Regions from separate parts of the Homo sapiens genome. Here region 2 is linked to region 1. Evidence: fine-mapped expression QTL. A gene starts in region 1. The other region holds a variant in brackets. All regions are shown on one strand. Distances are between the middles of the regions. Region 1 holds the start of SPMIP3 (sperm microtubule inner protein 3). Region 2 overlaps LOC105373262 (a long non-coding RNA gene).

Region 1 (2,716 bases):
GAGAAGGCGTGGGTGGGGAAGTGCTTTGGGATTGACATGACTCACCCTGGCTAGGAGCATGGTGACTGTACTAGCTGCCTCTGAGCCTGTGCGATGAGAGGCTGTTTAGAAGAGGGCTCGCAGCAATGAGTTACTTTGATAGTCCCCTGTTGCTTCTGTTTTCTCAGGCAGGCAGTTTTCCCAGTTCAGGAAGGTTGGTTCCCTTCTCCCCTGACTCTCACCAGTTCTGTAATGAATTCTGCTGCCTGAATACTCTTTCTTTTTTCCTTCTCTAGCCTAAATTAAGCCCATTCTTCAGGGCTTTGTTCAGGTCCTACATACGTTCCCTAGGAGGCCTCTCTTCTGAGTTTCAAATGGCCCATTTCCCTCCTGTGAATTCCCAGAGCCCCTGGGAGATTCTCCTACGCATTTTGGTTCTGAGTCCTTTCCTTTTTGGTTTATTGGTTTCTGAATTGATTTATTCATTTTATTATTTAAGAAAAATTAGTGACAACTCTCCACCAGGCTTTGGATAAGGTTCTAGAAATTCTTCAAACAACGAGACATCTGGGTTTTTTGTTGTTGTTGTTGTTGTTTGTTTTCTTAAACAGAGACAGGACCTTGCTACGTTGCCCGGGCTGGTCTCAAACTCCTGGGCTCAAGTGATTCTCCCACCTCGGCCTCCCAGAGTGTTGGGATTATAGGTGTGAGCCGCCACGCTTGGCCAAGACATCTGTTTTATACAGCACTTTGTCTCTTCAGGTAAAATGTGAGCTCCTAGATGTTGGGGACCACTTCGTTTGGTGGCCACGATCTTCACTCTCTTTGTCCTTCTCCTAACTCATTCTCTTGCAAAGTGTTCGCTGTCCAAGGAGTGCTTGATGCATACTTCAGAATGAGTGAATAAATCAATCGATCAGCTAACTCAGTAACCTGTTAATCTAGTTCACAGTTTTTAAAACCTAGGTCTTCTTGTATCACAGAGAACCAATTATCTTATTTAATATAGGTGTACCCGTTTCTAAGAAAAAAAAGACACGTTGAGTTAAAACTATGACAAGAATTCAAAGTTGAGAGAGATGAGTATTCACTTTCCAAAAGACATTTTTGCTTTACCAAAAGGCTTGCCATGAAGTTTCTTTATGTTGTGAGTTCCTGTCTCTAAAATATTTGAAATGCAGTCAACCATTTAGTAATGCAACCTCTAAATGAGGCGAGAGAGAGGTACAGGCAGTAACAACCAACCGCTATTACCTGCTTGGGCTGCCGTGGGCAGAGACCTCCTTGTTCTTAAAAGTACTCTGAGGACAGTGATGGGTACAGCTGCCTCCTGCTGCTGGATCAACTGCAGAGTGGCAGGGCCTGATTCCTTTACATCATTCAAAGGGTATTGTGACGCACACTGGCTTGCAAGGTTTTGCCAGGCAATGCCTTTCAGGTCCTGGGCTTAGAAAAAGAGTGCTCCTTTGGTCTCTAGGGAGAGACCAGCTGCACATGAAAGAAGGGGCAAAAATTACTGTGAAAAGGAAAATCATGTAGGCAAATAACCAGGCTATCTAATCACTAGAGCTTGCTTTCCTGTAAAGATTGTCCCAAGGACAACGTAAGGTGAAAATCTGGGTGGTGCCACACTGAGGAGTCCTGCCCTTTGCAAGCTGGAATTGAGGAAGGATGGTTTGGCACGAGGGGCAGATGAGGCCAGCCCCGCCTTGTCCAAGGTTAGGTCAGGCTCCAACCTGCTCCTTTGCAGGTATCAAAGGATAATTTTAATTATTTAAAAATATGCTGCAAACCAATCCATGGAGTATCACAACAGCACCACTATATAGAAGCAAGCCATAACCTGAGAAGAAGAGAGTGGCAAAAATATTTATTCTGACCAACCTCTGTCAAAACCAAACCAAACCAAAACGAAACACTGGCATTTTTTTTTCTTTTTTTTTTTTTGTGATGGAGTCTCTGTTGCCCAGGCTGGAGTACAGTGCCACAATCTCGGCTCACTGCAAGCTCTGCCTCCCGGATTCAAGCGATTCCCCTGCCTCAGCCTCCTGAGTAGCTGGGACTACAGGCGCGTGCCACCACGCCCGGCTAAGTTTCTGTATATTAGTAGAGACGGGGTTTCACCACGGCCAGGATGGTCTCGATCTCCTGACCTCATGATCCTCCCGCCTCGGCCTCCCAAAGTGCTGGGATTACAGGCGTGAGCCACCACACCCAGCCAACACTGGCATTATCTACAGTAGGTTGTCCTGGAAACAGGGACACTTCTCACTTATATACAGTTTGCAGGTTAGAATGTAAAATATTTCCATAAGATTCCAGAAGGCACTCAGGAGAGACCAGGGGCCAGGCTGGGTTCCTGCTGGGAGCTTAACCTACATGGAACAGGCATAAAATAATGTAATGACAGAGTCTTGGTGACAGCATTTTGTTGAAAGCAGATAAGCTAGGGAAAACTTAAATAAATATATGAGGACAGAAGCAACAAACTGGAACCACACTAAGAGAAAGGATAAATTGGTTTGATTTGTTGAGTGAGCACCACACGTTTTTTTAGCTATTAGACACACACCATCTAGAATCTCCACCACCACCATGGAAGGAGATTCTCTTTTGAAAATGAAGTATTTCTATTTGAAATGAAGGCTAAGAGAAGAAGCTACGGAACTTGCCTAACAGTCACACAACGAGGCCGTAATGAATCTATGATTTGAATCCAGCTATTTGACGTCAAAGG
Region 2 (2,944 bases), 40 kb after region 1:
CGAGGCTGCAGTGAGCTATGGTTGTACCACAGCACTTCAGCCTGGGTGACAAAGCAAGACTCTATCTCTAAAAAAATTGTAAAAAATAATTAAAAAGTTACAATCCCTTGTTCTTTTTTTGGGGCCTGAGATATTTTTCAAGCCCAGAATCCAATGACCGAAGAAGAGGCTGGGTCCTCACTAGGAAAAGCCCGGCAGCCTCAGGGCTGTAAGTAGTAATGTTTGCCCCAGGCTTTCCCCATTGATCCTTATGGTTATTTTCTCAGATAACGACATTGCTTATCCTCAGAGCCATGATACACCCCTGTTAGAATGGAGGCATGTGGGGTTCAGACAGTAAATGGAATTCTGGCCCATGTCTGGCTCACATTGATTCCACTGGGTCTACTGACCCGTCTGGTGGGCATTGCCCCAGAACCTGAATATGCAATTAATGTAGAATCAATCTACGTTGATTCCTTGGCCTTTGTGGTAAGAGCTATTGCAATTAAGAAGAAAAGGGGAGAGTCTTTGAAACTCCCCCATCAGCATCAATTATTGTCATTTAAAAAAATCATCCAGAATAATAGCCATACTGGCCAGTTTTTCCAGCACTGTCATAAGGAGGGAAGGGAGCCTGGGAGAGCCACACACCCAAAGTCCTTTCATAGCCCGCCAGGAAGGGGAGTGTTGCAACTTGGAAATAAGCAGTTGAGATACAGATAGGAAAACAAGCCTCCCGTAGTGCACCTACAGAGACCCTCTCCAAGCTTCAGGGCCCCGGGCCACCTGCCGCCAGGCCAAGCTGCTGTGCTGTAAGCTCCTGGACCACATTCTCTGGCTCATGATGTACATGCTATGTCATCGGTGTGGATTGTTGAACAACATAGAGTTAGATATTGAACACCACGGATTTTAAAACACAAGGGACTGGATTATGTAAGACATAAACAATAGGCTGGGCACGGTGACTCACGCCTGTAATCCCAGCACTTTGGGAGACTGAGGCGGGTGGATCAGTTGAGGTGAGGAGTTCGAGACCAGCCTAACCCAATATGGTGAAACCCCGTCTCTACTAAAAATACAAAAATAGCCGGGCGTGGTGGTGCACACCTGTAATCCCAGCTACTCGGGAGGCTGAGGCAGAAGAATCACTTGAACCTGGGAGGCGGAGCTTGCGGTGAGCTGAAATTGTGCCATTGCACTCCAGCCTGGGCAATAAGAACAAAACTCTGTCTCAAAAAAAAAAACAACAAAAAAACAACAAAAAAAACAACTATATCTATATGTCTATATATCTATATATCTATCTATATCTATATATATGTGTGTGTGT[GTGTATATA/A]TATATATATATATATATATATATATATATATATATATATAAATAGTTCAGAGAGAATTATGGCCCTGGAATAGATGAAGCCTTCAAATGCAGGCCGAAGGTTCTGAGGCATCCTCCAAGATGCTCTGGGGCCATCGTGCGAGCCAGGCTGGCAGGTTTGGAGACAGTCAGAGGAGAAAACCTCTTCCATGTCATCAGCTCCGAACTCCTAACGCCCCTGAGACCACCCTCCTTTACAGACATTGTCAAAGCCAATCACTGTATGAGAGGAGGAAGGAAAGGGAAAGGAAATTAGGGCATGCTAATAAAGGGACTGTGGGAGCTTGAGGAAAGATTACGGGTTAAAGGTAAATGTAAGAAAAAACAGGCCAGATGAAGTGGCTCATGCCTGTAATCCCAGCACTTTGGGAGGCTGAGGCAGGTGGACTGCTTGAGCCCAGGAGTTCGAGACCAGCTTGAACAACATGGTGAAAACCTGTTTCTACAAAAAATACCAACATTAGCCGGCTATGGTGACGTACGCCTCCAGTTCCAGTGATACAGAAGGGCTGGGCTCCTGGCTAAACCCCAGCCTTAAGCCTGGAACCGTGGCCCTAAGTGAAAACAGCTGATCCCATTTTTCTGCCCAAATGTGGCTTTTTGGGCCTCCCCCGCCCCTATCCTGTGCCCATAAAAGACTTCAGCTGGCAGAACAACACAAGTGGCTGAGTGTCGCGGATCCAAGCAGCTGAGTGTTGTGGATCCAAGCAGCTGAGCGGTGAGCAGAGAAGCAACTGAGCACCAGAGACTACAGATAGATGTGGCCAACTTCAGACAGCGTGGCTTCAGAGAGGGGCCCAGCCAAAGACGGCAGAGCTTCAGGAAAAGATCACCTTCGCATGCCCTTTCCAGCCTCCCTTTCTGCCCAGAGCCACCCACTGCTCAATAAAGTCTTCCGCATTCATCACCTTTCAAACACTTCATGTGACCTGATTCTTCCTGGACACCAGACAAGAACCCAGGTGCCAAGAGGGGAGGGGCTGCCACCCTGACCCTCCACTGAGCTGACTGGCACTTGGCTGTCCTCAGACGGCAGAGCTGAAAGGGCAATTGGTTGTAACATGCTTGGATGCTGCTGCGGGGCCTGCACAGAGCCTGCTCCTGCCGGAGAGGAGCGACCAGCTGGCTCCAGAGTTCATTCGCTCTAGTTCCTGCACTCACTCACTCACACGCCACCTCCCAGGAGCAGTGGCCAGTGGTGGGCTAAATCTAAAAAATAAAATAAATAACCTACTAAATCTGAAAGGTAATGAAAGATATAAGTTGAAATGCTTTAGATTTAAAGTGGAAGAAATAAAAGGTAAAAGCTTTTATTAGCTAAATTAAAAGCTTGAAAAATGAGGAGACAGATTTTAGATTGAGATTAGAAATATATGTAATAGGCAAAAAGGAATTGCATTTTACTTTATTTGATAGGAATAAAAAGGAAAGAAAGCTGAACGTGGTGGCTCATGCCTGTAATCCCAGCACCTTGTGAGGCTGAGGCAGGAGGATTGCTTGAGCCCACTAGTTTGAGATCCGCCTGGGCAATACAGTGAGCCCCTGTTTCTACAAAAAATTAAAAATTAGCCAGGTATGGTGG

Evidence for each region. PIP is the estimated chance that this variant, and not a neighbour inherited with it, causes the effect.
Region 2: its variant is fine-mapped to the expression of SPMIP3 in monocytes after R848 (Quach 2016, PIP 0.95). The same link has a PIP of 0.9 or more in monocytes after Pam3CSK4.

The regions. Positions count from the first base shown.
Region 1 is chr1:244,351,252-244,353,967 of GRCh38, reverse strand. It overlaps SPMIP3 (sperm microtubule inner protein 3), which reads right to left and starts at 1,333. Exons shown (of 5, transcript NM_001012970.3): 1 at 1,234-1,333.
Region 2 is chr1:244,311,399-244,314,342 of GRCh38, reverse strand. All of the region lies in intron 1 of LOC105373262 (a long non-coding RNA gene), which reads left to right. Among named protein-coding and RNA genes, the nearest start is that of SPMIP3, 40 kb to the left of the region's middle. The variant GTGTATATA/A (reference allele first, on the strand shown) is at 1,316.